Linked DNA regions of Homo sapiens: region 1 is linked to region 2. The links come from fine-mapping of genetic effects on gene expression. A gene starts in region 2. The other region holds a variant in brackets. All regions are shown on one strand. Distances are between the middles of the regions.

The links.
Region 1: its variant is fine-mapped to the expression of BRSK2 in lung (GTEx, PIP above 0.99).

What each region holds. Positions count from the first base shown.
Region 1 is chr11:1,449,256-1,459,256 of GRCh38, reverse strand. BRSK2 (BR serine/threonine kinase 2) reads right to left here. Exons shown (of 20, transcript NM_001256627.2): 13 at 9,421-9,481; 14 at 8,463-8,670; 15 at 7,838-7,886; 16 at 4,649-4,772; 17 at 2,729-2,909; 18 at 2,570-2,659; 19 at 18-65. Among named protein-coding and RNA genes, the nearest start is that of MOB2, 33 kb to the left of the region's middle. RefSeq lists enhancers at 715-1,277, 5,529-6,238. The variant C/T (reference allele first, on the strand shown) is at 4,255.
Region 2 is chr11:1,385,653-1,395,653 of GRCh38, reverse strand. It overlaps BRSK2 (BR serine/threonine kinase 2), which reads right to left and starts at 5,720. Exons shown (of 20, transcript NM_001256627.2): 1 at 5,279-5,720. The coding sequence starts at 5,369. RefSeq lists a silencer at 5,954-6,323.

The DNA of each region.
Region 1 (10,001 bases), 64 kb before region 2:
GCGTGGGGGATTCTTACCACATTTGGAAAGCCGCCCCGTCATCATTTCCATACAGTTAGTGGTGTCTGGAGTACAGAATGGAGAGAGGAGGGAGGGAGTGAGTGAAAGGCTGTCCTGGGCCTTCTGGCTGGACGCCCACAGCCTCGATGGGGAGGGGGTGGAGCCAGGAGTGGGTAGGGCCCCAGAGGCATGGGTGGGGAATACTGGGGGGGCCAGAGCCAGAGGGGGCGGGGCTTATAAGGGGCAGTGCAGGGGCAGGGCCTGGAGTGAGGCGGGGCTGCGGAGGCAGGGAACAAGGCGGAGCCACCTGGGCAGCAGCCGGACCTCCAGCAGCCTGAGCCTGAGCCTGGATATGGCCGGTGCCCTGGGTGGGCCTAGCCCCTCCCCTGGGCTGACAACTCTGCCCTGGCCGTGGCCTGCATCCTCACTGTGCCACTCAGCAGCTCCAGGGCCCTGTGGCTTCCGGCTGCCCTTCAACTCAAGGCAGGCACCCTCTTCCTCGGCCCTCTTCCCTACTGCTGGGCCTGGGGATGTTGGTGCTGCCAGTCCAGGACTGGGGTGGGAGCAAGGCCCTGGGAGGGGCTACTCCCTCAAGGCCCTCACTGGCGCCTGCACAGGGTGGACACACGCCCTGGTCTGCCTGTGCCTGCTCACTGGGGGCTCTCAGCCTCCCCTCCCTCGGCCGCAGTCTCTGGGGGGGTGGGCAGTGTCTGAGGAGGCCCCCTGCTGGCTAGCCACCTTCCACACATCCTTGGAGCTGGGCTCACTGGACAAAAGCATCCAGTGTGGGAGGGGGGCAGGGCTGGGAAGGGCTGGGCGTAGCGAGATCACGGGGATAGGCTGGGCTCCCCAAGTCCACAGGGAGATAGATGGGGCCCAGAATAGACCCCCAAGAGCCTCTGCAGTGGGCTCCACTGAGGTCAGGGTCCGGGGCAGGAATGGAGAGGGGCTTGGAGTTGGCTCCAGGGGAGTGCTGCGTGCTGACAGGCGGTACCACACTTTAAGGGGCCAGGCTGGGGGAGCTTTGCCTACAGCCCACGCAGGAGCGCTCGACTGAGGCACCCAGATGGCTGCTCAGGTGCGGGGACACCCTGGGCAGTACCCCGGGGCCCGTTTCTGCTTGCCCTACCAGACAAGCCCTGTCCATCCCTGGCCTAGGTGGCTGCCCTGTCGTTCCCTGGCCTCGGTTTCCCTTCCTAAGATGAAGGCTTTCAAGGCTCAGAGAGCCAGAGGCTGCTGCCGGCCGACGGCATGGCCTCCGCTGTAGGGAAGCGCCACGTGTACCTGCGGGGCCGAGCACCTGGAACCCTGCTCCTCCTTACCCGCTGTGCCAGCCTGGCTCCCAAAATCAGGAGAAGGGGGCTACTCCTCCACCCACTGGGGCTTCGGTTAGGGCCAGGGCTGTTGGGGACCTCAGCCCCCAGCCCGCAGCAAGGTGAAGCACACTCTGGGGGGGCTCCCACAGGTGATGGCATGATGATGGAATGAGGATGTCATGGGGAGGGGCAGTGGGGCCCTCTTTGGCTTCCAGGACCCCACATGGAAACACAGGAGGTGACCCTAGCATGCCACGGAGCTGCTGAGATGCAGGCTGGGAGAGGGGACCCCCAGGGTCCAGCCGGGTGCTCCCCCACGACGCCCAGCGCCCCCACGCCGTACCAGCGTTCAGAGGCACACCCACACCCCCTTGCTGACAGACCAGGCCCATGCATGTGCCCAGTGCTCCGCCCTGCCCCCACCACACATGGGCCCAGGGGAGTGGGGGGAGCCCTCCCTGCCGTATGCCGAGTGGCACGGACCCTCGGGTCCTAGACCCTGGTGGTTCCAGGCTGGGGCAACCCTCCCCTGTGTGAGCCCATCAGGCTGTGGTGAAGCCCCCGCTCTGGCTGGGCTCAAGCCCCTCTGCCCTGCTGGAGGCATGACCCTGGGCTGTCAGGAAGTATGGAGAGATGAGAAGTCACAGCCCGTCAGGCAGCCCGCGGCCCTCCTAGGGTGCCATGGCGGGGAGTCCCGAGGGCAGGGCCTTGTCACTGCTCTCCCAGGTCCTGTGCAGGCTGCCCTAGCAGATGGGCCGCCCGGGGCATGCTTGGCCTGTCCAGGGCCGAGACCTGTGGGTGGGCATGGAGGGCCCTGCTCAGGGCCAGCCTGGCTCCGCCGAGGACCTGCCCGCAGCCCCTCCCCGCCCCAGCACAGGCCGGGCGCCTTACCTGCCAGCGTCAGAGGCTACTCTCGTAGCTGGTGGCCACCTTCTGGCCCTTAAGCCCAGCACCCCAGCTTAGTCCTGGCGCTGGTGGGGGGGGTTCTACGGTGGACAAGAGGCGCCTTTCAGTGTGGTGCGGCTGCGCCCTATGTCCCTGGCGTGCAGAGGCGAGGCGGGTGGTCCCGCCAGGCCAGGGAGGGGCTCTGCTCCCTGAGGGGTGCAGCCACAGCTCGGGGCAGGGAGGTGGGGGCGTCCGTCAAGAGGGGCCAGGAGGCTGCGCCCGGGTCCTCACGCCTCCCGTCCGCGCAGCACCAGCTGGCCACGCCCCACTCGCAGGCCGCAGGTTGGCCGGAGCTGAGCCCGCCTCACCTGACAAGTGCTGGGCCGCAGGCGGGTCGTGTGTGCTCAGCAGCTGGGCCTGGATGGTCTCCACCACCCTCTTGAAGCGACGGCTGGGGCCTAGGGGAGACAGGGGGTTATGCCCTGGACGGGCCTGGGCCCGGAGCCGCCCTGGGGGCGCCAGCTCACCTGAGAGCAGGGTGAAGGTGACGGAGTAGATGCCGTTCTCCTTCTGCGCCTCCCCACCCTCCGTGTAGGTGATATCAACCTGGAACTTGACCGGCTTCTGGAACACGGCTGGCCCCCCCGTGGCCTTGTACTCGGCCCGGAAGCTCGTTTGGGAGATGACGCTGTGGCTGAGACTGGGAATCTGTGGAGAGAGAGCAGCGTGAGCGTGGCTGGCCTGGCAGGTCCCACCCTGGCCCTCTGGGGAGGCAGCCCTGGGGCGAGCCAGCCCCACCGTGCACACATTGTGAGCACCCAGGCACCTCTGCTTCCGTGAGGGGCACAGTGCGGTTGGAGACGGCTGGAGCAGGGGGAGGGGCGTTTCCAGCCCCCACCCTCCAAAGCTTTGGTCCACTTAGCGGGCACAGCTAAGCCCCTGCCGGGCTTTTCTCAGGCAGCCACAGCACAGGATGACCAGGACCTTACAGAGGAGCCTTAAGGGCAAAGATGGAGGTGGAAGGTGACCCCTGCAGCCTGAGGTGGGGGTCCAGGGTGGAGCTGAGTGGGAGGTGGGGGGTCTGGGAGCTGCCACTGAGAGGGAGGTGCAAGGGCGGGGCTGGGGCTGTGCCCTCCTGCTGGGGCTTCCTGGGACTCCCACTGGTTGCGGGACCTATGGTGCTGGGCACTGGCTGGGTGGGCTTCACAGTACCGAGGGGGCAGCTGCAGGAAGCAGAACTCAGGGCCACCCAGCGCACAGGGCCCAGGCTGGCACACAGCCGCCTCACTGGGGCCGGCATGGGGAGGGGCTGAGTCTGAGGTTAGCCGTGGCAACCAGGGGCAGCATGAAGGGATGTGGTGAGGGAGGAGGCCGAGGAAGTGAGCAGCCTGTGGGGACGGGGACGGGGACGCTGAGGACCCCTGAGGCCAGGGTCCAAGTGCAGTCTGAGGCCTGCCCTGCCCAGCGCTGGGCTCTCCTGGCCCTGGAGCCTTCTGCAGGGGCTCCAAGCTGTCCCCACAGCGTAAGGGAAGCTCAGCTGCAGCCAGGGCAGCAGTGGCCTGAGTGCCCGGGGGCAGAGCATATGGTGGGGTGGGGGCCAGTCCCTAGCTAGAGAGGCTGCCGAAGCGAACCACGGCCTGATCTTGCCAAGACCCTGGGGCCAGGGAGGGCGCCCGGGCAGTGGTGAGCACAGGGCAGGACAGCAGCCCTGGGGAGGCAGGCTGGGGGCGGTGGGGGAGGCGGGTGGGGGGCAGCCCCTGTGATGCCTGGGCGCTGGGTGCAGCACAGGGTGGGGCAGGGCCGGCAAGGAAGGGGCGTCCTGATGGGACTGGGTGCTGGAGTCCTGGCAATAAACTTTCTCCATTTGAGGCTTTTAGGGCCTTTCTGCTCCTCCTAACCCAAAGATGCCCAGCAAAGACAAATGAAGCCCACCCAAGACCCCGAGCGCGACCACTCTGTGGAGAGCCACCCGGCCTCCGAGGGCAGGGTGAGACCAGGGAAACTGAGACACCTGAGGGCTGGGGCTGTCCACTGAGGGCCAGCAGAGCCCCAC[C/T]GGTCCCTAGGGCCATGGCCTCACAAGGGCTTCTCCCCGAGTCTGATGGAAATGTCCCCCTCTGAGACCCACCCAGCTGGAGCCTTCCTTCTGCCCCACGTGCCAGCTGCCCAGGCCTGTCCGGCACACACCTAGGGCTGCTGGGGACCAGTGAGCAAAGCCCTGACTCCCTCCGCAGGCCAAGCACCCCAGATGGGCAGTGACCCCTCCCTCACGAGGGTGGGCAGGAGAGAGCGCCTGTCCAGTGAAGGCGGCCAGGCAGGCCCACGGGTGAGCGGACGTCCGTGCTGTGCGCGTGGACATGTCCTGTCTACGTGAGGAGGCTGGATTCTCGGGGCTGGGCCGTGTGGGGTTGGGAGGGCTGCCCGCCTCCCCCAGCGCCCTGTGGCCTCACCGACAGGAAGGCGTGCACGATGTCAGCCTTGATGGAGCTCAGAGGTTTGTCTTTGATGACCACGAAGATCTGCTCCTCCTTCTCCAGGCTGATGAAGTTCCCAAACCAGGACTTCTTCGCCAGCCTGGGCAGTGGGAGACAGAGGCTGTGAGGATTGAGGTGTGGCACCGTCCACACCCCTGCCTCCCTCGAATCTGGGGTTGGAACGGCGGAATCTTCCATCGCTTCGTGATAGAAACGGCTGTCTCCACAGTGCTAGCCAGAACCCATGGCCCTGACCCCAACGCCCTAACCCTAGCCCATATGCCCTGACCATCACCGTGGCTCTAACCCCAACCCCAACCCTAACCTTTCTCCAAGCCCTAACGCCCTGACCCTGGCCCATATGCCACCCACTCCCAAGTCTGGGGATGCCCCTCCACAGGTGAGCCCCCCACAGGTGAGCCCCCCCTCACCAAGGCCGCTGTGAGAGGTGGCTCAAGCTGGGCTCCTGAAGTCAGCTGTGCCCCCCACCCCCAGGAGCAGGCGGGGCCTGCAACTCGCTTCCAACAGGAGAGTGGGGAGGCGCTTCTGAGGCCACAGAAGGCTACTCCTGTCTTGCTGGCAGGCTCACCCCAACATGCAGAGGCCCTCTGCTCTCCAGCTCAAGAGCACCCGAACCCCACCCACCAGCGCGGGGGCCAGGAAGCCCAGCCGTGAGAGGACCATGGCCAGAGGCGCCTCTAGCACAGCCCGAGACTCAGGCAGAGCGCGCCTGGGTGGCTGTTCAGAGGTGGCACGCTCTGCTGGCGTCCCCTGCCGTTGCTGCCTGGAGGTGGAACCAGGTGTGCTGAGAGGCAGAGGCAGGGACCGGGAGGAGGGGCCAGCAGGGCTGGGGCTCAGTGGTGCCCTCTCCCGACTGATTCTGAGGCCCCTCCCAGCGGCCTCACAACTCCCCTTTCCCTTGCCCATTCCTGGAGCTGCCTCCTCGGCCACTGTGCGGCCTGGGAGTCCTGCCGGACAAGCACGGGGACCAGGTCCAACCCTCACTCAGCCCCTCGACGCCTCCTCAGTGTCCTGCCGGTCTCGGCGGCTGTCTGTTCTGGGTTCAAAACTCCGAGGGCCACCACTGGCCCTGACCTTACCCCAGCCCCATGCCAGGGCCTGGAGCCAGGAAGTGCACAAAGCAGCCTGGCAGTTCTGGAAGCACAGGTGAGTTTCTACATGGTCGATGTTCTGCCCGATGAAGAGACAGGACAGATGGTACAAACGTGACTCTCTGCTTTGCGGCCCAGGGGTGCAGCATTTGGCAAAAATAGTCCCATGTGTGAAAGATGCCTGACGGCCCAGGGAGGCCAGGCCGACGAGGGGTGAGGGGCCTGCACTGTGACTCCAGCACCCACGTGGTGGGCAGTGCACAGCCTGGCCGGACACTAGTCTGGGTGTTGCTATGAAGCTATTTTTAGATGAGACGAACTTAAATCAGTCGCCTGTTGAGTCTGGCGGGGGACCCTTCCTCACAGGGTGGGTGCATCCGCCAGGTTCGGTCTTCCTGGGGAAAGAACGCCCCTCGAGGCTGCAACCTGGAAACTGCCTGGGCTTCCAGCTAGCACTTCAGACTCAAGGACATCAGCCCTGAGTGTCCCAGACAACCGCATGCATCCCTTCCTGAAGCCAGCTGCCTCCCTTGGTGCTGTTCCTCTGGGGTGCCTGGTTGACATGGGGCTGGCAGCAGCTGGGGCTGGGGGTTATCTCAGGTCCCCAGCAAGCGAGTTGTCGCCAAAGAGGGACTGTGGGAGGCATCCGTGCTGGACCCTCGTCCAAGGCGTCTGTGCAGGACCCTCAATAAGGGCTGTCACAGGCATCTGTGCCGGGCCCTTGGGTGGGGCTGTGGGAGGTGTCTGTGCTGGACCCTCGGGAACGGCTGTCGCAGGCATCTGTGCCGGGCCCTTGGGTGGAGCTGTAGGAGGCATCTGTGCTGGACCCTTGGGAAGGGGTGTCTGTGCCGGGCCCTTGGGTGGGGCTGTGGGAGGCATCCGTGCCGGACCCTTGAGAGGGGTCAGGGCCTCCAGGCCATCTCAAGATGGGGGAGGGGAGAAGCGCAGGCAGCCACAGTGGCATCAAAGCCACCTTCTCGGCTTTGATGTTTTCCACCTTCTCTGAGGAAGATAATTATGAGTCTGTTCATGAAAGCTTTTGGTAGCAGCAGAAACGGCAATGTCAGGGCCTAGGCGGAAGGTTCCCAAGTCTGCTGAGCCCTGTGCATCTGGGCTTGCGACAATACCTACACACCTCCGACCTGGGCACCCAGCTGGAAGGGCCACCTGATCGGCGCAGAAAGGCCACTGGGTGGAATCCTGGCACAGGCTGCAGATGCTGCTCCTGGGGCTTAGCACTGAGCAGTTTCCACAGGGGCCCCTGGTTTAAAGCCAGCAGCAGGACGAAGGTTCTCGTCTTACTCAGTCCACAGCTGGCCACATCTTCATTTCCCGGGGTCTCCTGTGAAGTGACTCCAGCCTGACCGCCGCTCTCTGCCGCTGCCTGGCCTGGGGTCACGCTGCAGGCTCATATGTGTACACCGCCAGTCGCCTGGTCTCCGAGACACTGCCCAGTGACTGAGGCCATCGTGGAGAGGAGGGAGAGGGCCTGGGCGCTGGGAAGGGGTCTCTCTGGGGACATCTTTGTCCAGACACCAGTCACAGCGGCCCCCAGGGCATCTCAGCACCTGGGCGCTGTAGAGTCTCTGCAGTGGCACCTCTCACGGCTCAGAAAGGCGGCGGGGCCAGACCTCGGCTTGGCTGCTCCGCTCCGCCCCTGCACACGTGTTCCCACCAGGCCTGCTGCCCCTTTGTTCTTAACACGGGCTGCTTTCTCCTTGAGACCTGAGCGACCCGGTCTCTGCCCTTGGCGAGCTCAGGCCCTGGGGAGACTCTGCCCAGTGTACCCCCTGCTCGCCTCCAGCCAACCCTAGGCTCTCCCAAGGCCTGAAGCTTCTCAACAGGGCTGGGGGCTCCTCCCCTGGCTGGCCTTCCCCTCACAGCCGGGAATTCGAACTTCAGAGACTCAGTGGCCGAGACGGGCCTGCCTGCAGTGGGAGGTGGGGCCACGTGGAGAAGGAGCACCCCGTTGGCCATAGGGGAAGGGTTCCATGCCCCTCTCCCGGCCAGCCTGGTGTCAGGTACCAGGAGGCCTCCAGCAGGGGCCACTTACTCTGGGGACGACTCTGGTGTCAGGTTGGACATCTCCTCCGGCGTCGGAACTGTGCACACAGGATGAACAGGAGGAAAGGCGTGGTGACCGCTCCATCCTTCCCCTGCCCTGGCCACCTTGCGCCGAGGTCAGGGTCATCAGGAGTCCACCCACACACACTGGGACAGCCCCCCCAGGGGCACTGGTCCACCCCAGCTCCCGGCCACCTTAGAGGCCCACTGGCAGTGGCGCCCCCCAGGCTAAGGGGAGCTGTCCCCGCCTCTGGTGCTGAAGTCGGCTGTGCCTTCTCCAGCAGCACTGGCTGGCCCTTGGTGCCCCACACATGGGGCCTCCTGACTGGCAGTGCCCCCTCGGTGGCCAGCTCTCCTTGCTGTGTGCCTGGCCCCAGGACACAGAGTGGGTAGACTCAGGAACACAGAATGTCTGGAGGGGATACCAGCCTGTGCGACAGGTAGGACACAGGCTGCTGCTGGGCGCTTTCGGGACAGTGAGACGTGGGCAGGCCCAGGCCACCCCTGCAGCTACAGGCCCCTCGGACTGGTCTGGCACTGCCGGGCGGGGCCCTCCCCAAGGCAGCCTCTGCTCTCTCCCAGCCCCACTCTGGCGCCTCCGGGCAGACACTCACCTTGCAGTTTCCGGCGGTGGAAGCGGGGTGAGCCCAGAAAGCTGTTCTTGATGGAGTTGAGCCGCGCCCTCCAGGGCACCCCTCCGACGCTGGGGCTGGACGGGGGCGTGGGGTTGGGCGTGCCAGCCGGGCTCTCCTTTGGCGTGTGGACAGGTGTCCCCTTGGGGGTGGGGAGGGGACTGCCCCTTGGTGAGGGGTGAGGGGTCACCTGTATGGTGGGGACAGATTTGGTGTTTGGTTCAATCCCGGCGGGTGGGGGCCGGGGGGGCACCCGCAGGGCAGGCGGGCCCAGGGGTGGTGCCAGCTGGGGACAAAGGCCAGTGGCGGGAGGCCGGGCTGGGGTGCTGGCCGGGAAGGGGTTGGACTTGGTGCCCTGCAGAGGCTTGTCGGTCAGCTTGGCCTTGCACGGCAAGGTCTGGGTCTTGGGGTCGGGCCGCAGGGCGGCCTGCAGAGGGAGGACGTGTCCAGGCCTCGAGGCGCTCCCACAAGCTTCGGGCTCCGTGGAGGTGGCCAGGGGGCGGGCCACGAAGGGCGGCTCGGGGGGCGGTGGGGGCAGGACAAGCTTCCTAATAGGCTACGGGGAGGCGCAGGGAGCGAGCGGGGTGGGGGCAGCCGCGCGGCACATGCACCCCAGTCCCCCGCATGCACACGGCACAGGAGGACCAGAAAGAAACAGGCGGGAGCGGGAGGGTGGGGAGGCAGGCAGGCATGGGCAGGAGGATTAGCCACAAAAGAAAAGAAGTGACACACAAGAAAACAAACAAAACAAAACAAAAGAGCGTGCAGTTAGCAGAGCAGCCTGCGCCACAGAGCAGCAGCCGCCACAGGAGCGTGGGCATGGGGGGCGCCTGGGGCTGCTTCCCAGGGTCCGCGAGGCTGCCCCCACCCTGGCACACGCTGACTGGGAGGGTTGGGGCCTCTGTGCATCCGAGCTGGGTGGGGGCGGGGGGTCACTCACCCGGGGGCTGCTGAGTGGGCTGGTGGAAAGGCCTGAGGAGGCACCGCTGATGGACCGAGACCTGGAGGTCACAAGGTACAGGGCCACTGCTCAGCCAGGGGGCAGTGGAGCAGCAGGTGCTGGGCTCTGCTCCCCCCAGGTAAACCCTCCAGGAGGCCTGGAGCCCGGGCCAAGAGCCTCGAGGCCCTGGGTCCTGCTGCACACCCTGTCAATTCAGGAGGGCCCAGGGCGCCTGGCTGTGCCCAGCCCCACTGGGGCCCCCATCAGAGCCCACGTGTGGGGGCCACCCCATGCCAGCAGCCCAGGCACAGCACAGGATACGGCATCAGACAGCCGCGGCAAAGGACCATCCAGCGTGGGGGTGGACGGAAGGACGAGGGGACAGACGGGAGCTTCCTGTATGCAGCCCCTTCTGCTCCAGGCCTCGTGCTGGCTCCAGCCTCCCACCTGCCAAGCCCCCCCTGGCTGAGCTCTCACAGGGCCTGCAGCCTGGTCCTCCATGTCCCTAGATGCCCGTGAGGGATGCCTGGGTCAGCGGCCGGCCCTTCCCTTGTCCACAACCAGGAGGGCCTGGGCAGGGC
Region 2 (10,001 bases):
CCCACGTCAACAGGGACACACACACCTGAGGTGCCCAGGGCCACAGTGGGTGGGGACAGGACAAGGGCCTAGGGCTCCCGCCTCCAACGACCCTCCCGCCCCCGCCTAGGGGAACTGCCGTCCTCACCACCCGGAACCTCTGTGCCAAGGGCCCTGACAGGGACACTCAAGGCCAGCTCTCAGCTGGAAAGGGGGCTCCCTGTGGAGGGCATGCAGGGCAGGAAGACGCCAGGGGCAGCATCTTGAGGCCTCCACCCTGGCGCAGTCACTGACATGGCGCCCAGCGACACCAAATGGGCCTTTCCAGGGACTTCAGGGGGCCAGGGAGACTTCAGATGGGAGGGCTACCCACCATGCTGGCTCCCCGGGCTCTGTGCACGGCGCCCCTGAGAACAGCGTCCTGAGACCTCAGCTTGTAGAAACCCCGTGCAGGGCAGATGAGGGGTTCAGTCCAGCCCCAGGCTGCTGCTGCCCTGACAAAACAGCTGGGGTCAGATGGCCAGGGCCTGATGTGGGGAAGGCCACAGAATTCCTGGGGTCTCGCAGCAGACACCCCACGCTGAGTCCACCTTCACCTTCATGGCTGGGGAGGCTGCCGGGTCCTGTCTACCCATGCGCTCTCCGGGCTCAGCCCTGCACAGCCCATCTCCAGGGGCCCATCTCCAGGACCCATCTCCATGGCCCATCTCCAGGGGCCCATCTCCAGGACCCATCTCCAGGACCCATCTCCAGGACCCATCTCCATGGCCCATCTCCAGGACCCATCTCCAGGACCCATCTCCATGGCCCATCTCCAGGGGCCCATCTCCAGGACCCATCTCCAGGACCCATCTCCATGGCCCATCTCCAGGACCCATCTCCAGGACCCATCTCCATGGCCCATCTCCAGGGGCCCATCTCCAGGACCCATCTCCAGGACCCATCTCCATGGCCCATCTCCAGGGACCCATCTCCAGGACCCATCTCCAGGACCCATCTCCAGGGGCCCATCTCCAGGACCCATCTCCATGGCCCATCTCCAGGACCCATCTCCAGGACCCATCTCCATGGCCCATCTCCAGGACCCATCTCCATGGCCCATCTCCAGGACCCATCTCCAGGACCCATCTCCATGGCCCATCTCCAGGGGCCCATCTCCAGGACCCATCTCCAGGACCCATCTCCATGGCCCATCTCCAGGACCCATCTCCATGGCCCATCTCCAGGACCCATCTCCAGGACCCATCTCCATGGCCCATCTCCAGGGGCCCATCTCCAGGACCCATCTCCATGGCCCATCTCCATGGCCCATCTCCAGGACCCATCTCCAGGACCCATCTCCATGGCCCATCTCCAGGGGCCCATCTCCAGGGGCCCATCTCCATGGCCCATCTCCAGGACCCATCTCCAGGACCCATCTCCAGGACCCATCTCCATGGCCCATCTCCAGGGGCCCATCTCCAGGACCCATCTCCATGGCCCATCTCCAGGGGCCCATCTCCAGGACCCATCTCCATGGCCCATCTCCATGGCCCATCTCCAGGACCCATCTCCAGGACCCATCTCCATGGCCCATCTCCAGGGACCCATCTCCATGGCCCATCTCCAGGACCCATCTCCAGGACCCATCTCCAGGACCCATCTCCATGGCCCATCTCCAGGGGCCCATCTCCAGGGACCCATCTCCATGGCCCATCTCCAGGACCCATCTCCAGGACCCATCTCCAGGACCCATCTCCAGGACCCATCTCCATGGCCCATCTCCAGGGGCCCATCTCCAGGACCCATCTCCAGGACCCATCTCCATGGCCCATCTCCAGGGACCTGCACACCACAGCCCATCGCTGCCCGTCCTGCTCAACTTTCTAAACAGACCCCATCTCAGACCAGCTTCCTTCCCCTCCACATCTGCCTCCAGCTTCTGGGCCTGGGGTCACCCCCAGGGTCTCCCAGGCACAGGCTCTCCCTCCCCTCACCTGTTCCATCTTCAATGACTCCTCCCATCCCAGGACCCCTCTCCACCCTGGCAGCCACCAGGGCTCAACCTTCCTAAAGGCCATTGAGAACATGGAGGGGCGGCCCCAGGTCCCTGGCAGCCTAGGTCCCTCCCCCACGCCACAGCAGGTGAACACTGCCAGGTGAGCTGCAGGGCAGCCCCTCATCCTAGCTCCTTCGTTCCCTCGCAGGGAGCCCTATCGCGGCCATTATTCCTTTCTCCCGCCCCCCAGACAGAGGATTCCCGAAGGCAGGCCCCTCATCGTCCCATGCAGCCCACCCGCCTGCCCCCAAGAACAGCTCCAAGGGCCCGAGGTTCTCCAGCTCCTCCCACAGGGCCCTCCCAGGCCTCCCAGATTTCAGGAGCTAAGCCGAGGTTTGGGCAAGAAGGTGCCCTGCTCCACGTACTGATGGGGCACAGGGACAAAGGCGCGCAGGGACAAAAGCCACCCAGCCCGTGCCACACACCCTCCTGGACCTGCATGCTCCAACTCGGAGTGTCTGCGCCCTCCAACCTCCATGGTTGCCCTTGCTGGCAGGGACTGTGTCTCGGCATCTCTGCAGGGGTCAAGCTCAGATGAGGCTACACAAGCCTTTCTCAGCCCCAAGAAAAGCTAAGGCAGCACCTTTGCAGGTGGGTTCCCACCCCAACCCCAGCCTACATCCCCCTAAGTCTTGGCCAGAAACCACCAAGCAGCCGGCGAGGAGGCTTCCACAGATGCTCAGTGCTCTGACGGCTTCACCTGGTGCCTGGCACCGGCAGTGAGACCACTGAAGGCAACCCCCACAGCCACCGAGGGGAGCTGTGCAGAGGACGCCCCATGCAGAAGGACGACCCTACAGCCACACTGGCCCTGCAGGACGCACAGACCCAACAAGACAGGGAGGTGCCGTACAGGTGAGACCATGCAGCGCTCACGCTGAAAGGCAGAAGAAGACAGCCGACCGGACCCTGCGGCGTCTAGAAGGGCGTCCTCCAGGCCCCGGTGGGGGTGCTGCGTGGTCTCCCCTCCCCACACGGCCAGACTCCCCAAGGGCAGGTTTCGGACCACATCTTTGGCCCACCGTCCAGCAGGCCCCAGCTTGGGTCAGCCGGGTGGAAGGGCTCTCGTGGCACCACAAGGCTCACTGCCACTGCCACTGACCACCTCCCTCTCAGTGGCCACCTCAAGTCGAGCAGCTCCTCCTTCCAAGGTCTCAGGCTGAGAGAGATGAACAGAGAGGGCCAAACAAAGCTGCCAGCCACAGACACGGGGAAGGGGCTGGAGTCGCGTCCACACCAATGGCCCCCCAAGCAAGGCCTCCACAGCTCCCCTGTGGCCAGGTCCCTGGAAGGAGAAGCGTTCTCAACGGCAGGATCAGATCGTCCTCGGGTGGTGGCGGCCAGAAGCCCAGCCTCCCGTTCTCCCACGGAGGTCTCCTGGCAGGAAGCCTATCTCCCTCTTGAGCTTGGGACCTGGCAGCTCTCCTGGCATCTGGTGCCAAGTGGCCCAGCACACACACTCCAGGCCCCATGTCCACCCAACTCCTGGTGACCCTTCAGCAGCAGCAACAGAAGACGCACAGAAATGGTGGCCTTCTCCAGGGCCCTCCCGGTGACACGCTTGCGCTCTGCCCGTCATAACTCGGGAGAGAGGGGCCGCTTTGTGCCCCCCCTCGAGCTGTTTTCTAAATATCTCTCTCAGCACGTTGTAGACACACACAGCCCATCCTTTTGTATTCATTACTGTTAATTACAGTGGAAACCTCCCGTAATTAACTGCCGCCAGCAGAATGCCATGAAGAGTGGAGACCAGCCCCTACCCACCGAGGCCGCGCACAGCACATAACTCATCGTGTCTTCATTTACACGCAGATGTTTCCTTATAATAACATTTTATTGGGACCGTAATTGGATTATCTCACTGACTCCTGCATCCTGCTGCCCTGGGCCCCTCCTTCACCACGGATTTCACACACTAGTTTTTCTTTCCGGGAAAGACGAGAATTTTGAACTCAGGTGACATGGGCTGAATGCCACCTCCTTCTCCAACCCAGGCTGCACCACCCCACCTGCCCAGGTCCTGCCCTGTGGCCAGGGGCCCTTCCGTGCCGTGGCGGGTGGCGGAAGGCTGTGCACCCAAGGTGAGGCAGCTCCCCTGAACCCCTCAGTCTAAACCCCTTCCTGCAGCTCTGCCGTAGTTACATCACAGCCACGGCCCTCCCCCAAGAGCCTGGGCCTGGCCCACTTTCTTTCCCCAACGCCACCTCCCAGCTCCTCCTCTGTGCAGCCGTGAGGGGCTGAGCCTCCACCCTGCACCAGCGCTCTCCTCCTCCTTCCCTCCACCCCTGCCCGCCCGGGTCTAAGGAACTTCTCGGATTGGAAGGGAGAGGCAGTGCCGTGGGACCTCGGGGACACCAAGAGACAGGCCGGTCCTGAGAGAAGAAAGAAAATGGCTGAGCCCCAGCCTCCACAAAGGCGACTCTGTGAATGTGCCTGACCAGATGAAGGGCTAGCCAAACCCAGCGGGCCGGGGAGAGTTGGCCACATGCGAGGGTAGCTGGGTTGCCTCTGGCCTGGGTTCGGCCCCGCAGGGACCCGGCCTGTTCCCTAGAATGACAGCCAGGCCCCACCGGGAAGCCCCCTCCACCGGCAGGCCGCGGGGCTGCTCCACGGGTCAGGTCCCACGCACTTCTGGTCCCAGCACCAATGGCCTCTCCCTGCCCCGTGGGAATGCAGGTCACAGACGCTCCGCCCGCCCGAGCCCGAGCCGGAGCAGCGCAAGGCGCTGTCCAGCCCTCTGCAGGTCCCCGCACTCTCCCGCCCCCACCGCGGAGGGAGATCGGGCCTGCCCGGAGGCCCCGGTGGCCGGCGCGCGGAGGTGGGAGTCCCGCCGGGGGCGCAGCTGCTCGGGCAGCACGCCTATTAGCGCGGCCGCGGCAGACGGCAGATGGGCGCCCGCGCGGCCCCCTCCTCCCGCGGCACAATGGGCCCGGTCGCTGGGGCGCACAATGCGGCCCGGGCCGCGCACCTGCAGCGGGGCCCGAGGGGCGCCGTCCCGTGCGCCCCTGTCCGCCTGCGCGCCCCGCGCCGCGCCGCGTGTCCTTGGGCCGCGCCCGGCCGACCGCAGCCAAGCGGCCTGCGGGATCCGCGGCGGAACCGGGGCGCACGAGCGGACGGGGGCGCACGGGCCGCCCATTGTTCGCGGCCGGGGCCCGGGCCGGGCCTGCGGCTTCGCGGCCGGGGCCTCCCTCGGGCGCCCCCCACCCAGCGCGCTGCCAGCGCGGCCTCCCCGGCCCCGGTCCCCGCCCCGGCCGCACGCACCTGTCTGCCCCTTGCCCAGCGTCTTCTCCAGCCGGTAGGGCCCAACATACTGCGCGTGCTGCGCGCCGCCGTCCTTCCCCGTCGATGTCATCGCTCTGGGGCCCGGCGCCGGCCAGGGGCGCCCGGGCGCGCGGGCAGGGAGGGGCCGCCCAGCGTCCGCCCGCGTCCGCCGAGTGCCGTCCGCGCCGACCCGGCCGGGGCGCCCCCGCGGGCCCCGCTGCTTCGCGCCGCCCGCGTCCGCCCGCGCCGCCGCCCCCCGCGTCCACTCCGACGCGGCAGTCCGAGGCCTGGCCCGCGGCGACGCCTCCGCCTCGTCGAGAGGACAGGGCGGGCGGGGGCACCTGGCTTCCGCCGCCGCCGCCGCCGCCGCCGCCGAGGCCCGCGCCCCGCGCCCCGCGCCCCCAGCGCACGCCCGTCAGCGGCCGCGCAGCCGAGCCGAGCCGAGCCGAGCCGAGCCGTGCAGCTGAGCCGAACAGCCGAGCCCAGCAGCCGAGCCGAGCCGAACAGAGCCGAGACGAGCCGAGCCGCGCAGCTGAGCCGAACAGCCGAGCCCAGCAGCCGAGCCGAGCCGAACAGAGCCGAGCCGCGCAGCCGAGCCATGTAGCCAAGCCGAACAGCCGAGCCCTGTAGCCAAGCCGAACAGCCGAGCCGAACAGCGGAGTCGAGCGCAGCTGAGGGGAGCCGAGCCGGGCCGCGCAACGGAGCCGAGTCGACACGAGCCTGTACGAACGCAGCGGGATGCCGTGGCGGCGGCAAGCGGTGCCCGCGCCGGCCAATCAGCGCCTCCCCACCCCGCCCCGCCGCTACGAGCGCTCGGGGAGACTCTAGGGGGCGAGGCGAGGCCAGGGCGAGGCCGGGACCTGGGAGCCTCCAGCCCGCCGGCTGCCACGTCCGGTCCCACCAGGCAGCAGAGCTCCCGCTGCCGCCCGACCCGCCATTAAGGCGCATCCCGGGACGGAGCAGGCAGTGGGCCCATGGCGAGGGGGTGCAGATGGCTGCCCTGGACGGGGGTTTTACCCTGCAGGGCGTGACCCCGGGTGTCCCAAAGAGTTTCCCGCCCCTCGAGGGGGTGCTGCACGCGCGGGGGATGGGGATGCTGCCCTGGAGGGGGGCGAGTGTTGCATGCGGGGCGGGAGTGCTGTACTGGGGAGAGGTGCTGTATTCGGGGCAGGGGTGCTGCACACATGGGGGGTGCTGCACGCCAGCGAGGGGCATGCTGCGCTGGAGGGGGCGGGTGTTGCATGCAGGGCGCGGATGCGGCACACGTGGCGGGGGGGCTGCATGGGAGTCTGTGGGGCTACTGCACGCGGGCGTTGTCCAAGCAGAGATTGTGCACCCCCAGGGAGGACGTGGCCCTCCGCCTCCGCTCCCGAGGGAGAAGCGGCGGTTTTCCCAGTTATGCCACAGTGACCTGCGCGGCGCGGAGTCAAGGAACTCACCTGGGATCCGGCCGCAGCGCCCTGGCGCCTCCCGGCCCTTGCTACCGACCCCTCTTTCAGGTTGAGCAGCTGGGCAGGGGTTGCCGGGAGCAGCCTTTGGAGGTCTAAACACAGGCAGCCGAAGAGGCAGCCAGACCTGGACGGACCCTCTGTTTCTTTGCAGAAAAACACTGGTATTTCCTTAAGCCCGTGCTGCAGAAGGTGGTGGGAGGGGAGAGGTGAGGGAGACCCGGAACGCTGCAGAAGTGGGGGTCCCAGATCTTGCCCGTGTATGGTCTGCGGGCAACGTTTCCCCTGCGGGCTCTGCCACACACTGCTGCTGACCGTGGTCCGCTCCCCACGCTGGTAAGCCCGTATGAGCTCAGGAAACTGCGGGGTCTTCCCAGTGCGCCCTCCTGCTCTTTGGGCTGTCTGTATTTCCAGCTGGGGAGGGGAGTGGGCCCCAAAGCACCTGTCCACTCTCGGCCTGCACCCGCCCGCCCTGCTTCCCTTCAAATGCTGTGGACTAAGGGTCCTCCCTACCCAATTCTGGGGCCTCTGAGCATGAGCAATCAGGGCCCCACCAGTGGGGGCAGGGGAGGGGGGCTGAGAGCATGGGACAGAGGCAGAGGGCACTCCCCTTTCCCCCGCTGCTGCTGCTGTGAGTGGGGACAGCAGACATTTTTAGCTGAATGTAGACTGGGACCTCCAGCTGGAGAAACTGTCAAGCAGTGAGGTCTGGCTGGAGGCTGACTGGGAGTGGTCTGGTCCAGGTGCCAACAGAGGCCGAGGGTGTGCAGGAGACCAGGAGAGGGCGTCAGGCCACAGCCAGAGGGCAGGGGCACTTGACCTGAGATGCCCTCTCTCTGCTGCCATGGTCACCTGGCCTCCCAGGCTGCAGCAGAGTCAGACGCACCTTTGTGACATCCTCAGCAGCATTTTGCCCTATTGACCGTTTGCATCCGGCTACTCCAGTGGCCAAAATTCTTGCTTTCTTCCTTCCCACCTCCTTGCCAGCCTGCATCCCTCTCCCAACCCTCACTGCAGCCCTGAGGCCTTTTCTTCCCTGTCTGTGTCTGAGCAGCCTATGCCATTGGTGGCCTCTGGGGCTCAGTCTGGGGCCTCTCTTCTGGCTCCCTGCCTGTCCTCCGGGCGCAAGAGGCTAGTCAGCCTTCAGCCTCTTGAGTGCCTATCCTCAAATCGCCCTCCCAGCCTCCCTTGGCCCTGCTGTCCCCTCTTGAAGGTGCTGCACAAAACCCCAGACTCAACGCCTTCTCCATAGCACGCCGCGCCCTCCCTGCTGCCATCTTTGTGGGGATCAACAGGATGACTGCCCTTCCTTCCAGCGGGCCTGGTACTGGGGTGCCCCAGGAGAGGGTGTACCAGGGTGTGGCCAGCCAGTAGATGCCCACGACTGTGATGCCACAGCCCTCGGTCCCCCTCTGTCGCGTGTAAGGTGGGAGCAGGAGCCCCAAAGGAGCCAGGGCTCTCGAGCACGAAGGTCTGTTGCCGGAGTTAGGAAAGGGCCCAGTCTCACAAAGACGTCCAGGCCAAGACTCACCAGTGGAGCCCACCAAACACTAATGGAGGAAAAGCACCCCGCTACACAGACACTTCCAGGACACAGAGGAAGACGGGCCATGTCCCAGCTCCTCTGTGAAACTGTCATCACCCTGGTGCCAAAACCATGCAAGGACATGACAAGAAAATTAAAGTCCACTCAGGAGCCTAGACACAAAAATCCCTTAACAAAACATCAAATCAATTCCAGCAATATATAAAGAGAACACATATGACCTTGTGGAGCGTACCCGGGAATGCAAAGTTAGTTTAACATTTCAAAATCAATTGTCATTCACTATTAGCAGACCAACACAGAAAAACCACACGGTCATTTCCACAGATGCAAGGAAAGCATTCAACAAAATTCAGCACTCATTCACGACAAAGGCTCTCAGTAAACCAGGAGGAGAAGATTCGAATCTATTCTGCTCCTGCACTCCCAACCCAACAAAGGGAAACTACAAAAACCCACAGCTAATGTCAGGCTTAGTGGTGAGAAACTGAAAGCTTTTCCTTGGGTCAGGGATGGGGCAAGGTTGTCCATCATCATCATTTATTTCAGTGTCGTGCCAGAGTACATGCCGAAGTAATGAGGCAAGGAAGACAAAATTTGTACCAGTTGAAAAGGAAATTTTTTATTATTATTATTATTTTTTTTTTTTTTTTGAGATGGAGTCTTGCTCTGTCGCCCAGGCTGGAGTGCAATGGCCCGATCTCGGCTGACTGCAAGCTCCGCCTCCCGGGTTCACGTCATTCTCCTGCCTCAGCCTCCCAAGTAGCTGGGACTACAGGTGCCCGCCACCACGCCCGGCTAATTTTTTTTTATTTTTAGTAGAGGCGGGGTTTCACCGTGTTAGCCAGGATGGTCTCGATCTCCTGACCTCATGATCCACCCGCCTCGGCCTCCCAAAGTGCTGGGATTACAGGCGTGAGCCACCGTGCCCAGCCAAAAAGGAAATTTTAGGTGATCTTTATTAGAAGATAACATTAATGGCCGGGCACGGTGGCTCACGTCTGTAATCCCAGCACTTTGGGAGGCTGAGGCGGGCAGATCACCTGAGGTCAGGAGTTCGAGACCAGCCTGGCCAACCTGGTGAAACCCTGTCTCTACTAAAAATACAAAAATTAGCTGGGTTTGGTGATGGGCACCTGTAATCCCAGCTACTCAGGAGGCTCAGGCAGGAGAATCGCTTGAACCCACGAGGCAGAGTTTGCAGTGAGCCGAGATCATGCCATTGCACTCCAGCCTGGGCAACAAGAGCAAAACTCCATGTCAGAAAGTAAAACAAGAAGATAACATTATTGTCTGCAGAAAATTCTAAGCTACAAACTGGTACTAAAACGAATAAGTAAGTTTACCAAAGCCACAGGGTACAAAGCCAAAAAAAGGTCAATTCTATTTGTGTGCTAACCATCAATTAGAAGTTGAAATTATGAAAACAGTACCACTTACAAAGAGAATTTAAAAACCACGAAATACTAGGGGTAAATTTATCAGAATTTGCATGAGATCTGTACACAAAAAACGATTATACATCTCTCAGTATATTAAGTGAGACTTAACAAGGCCCAAGTAATCGATTTAATTTTAATTTGATTTTTTAAATTTTCTCTTTTTTTTTTTTTTTTTTTTTAGAAATTGACAAGCTGCCAGGTGCAGTGGCTCATGCTTGTACTGCCAGCACTTTGGAAGGCCAAGGTGGGAGGATAGCTTGAGCCCAGGAATTTGAGACCAGCCTGGG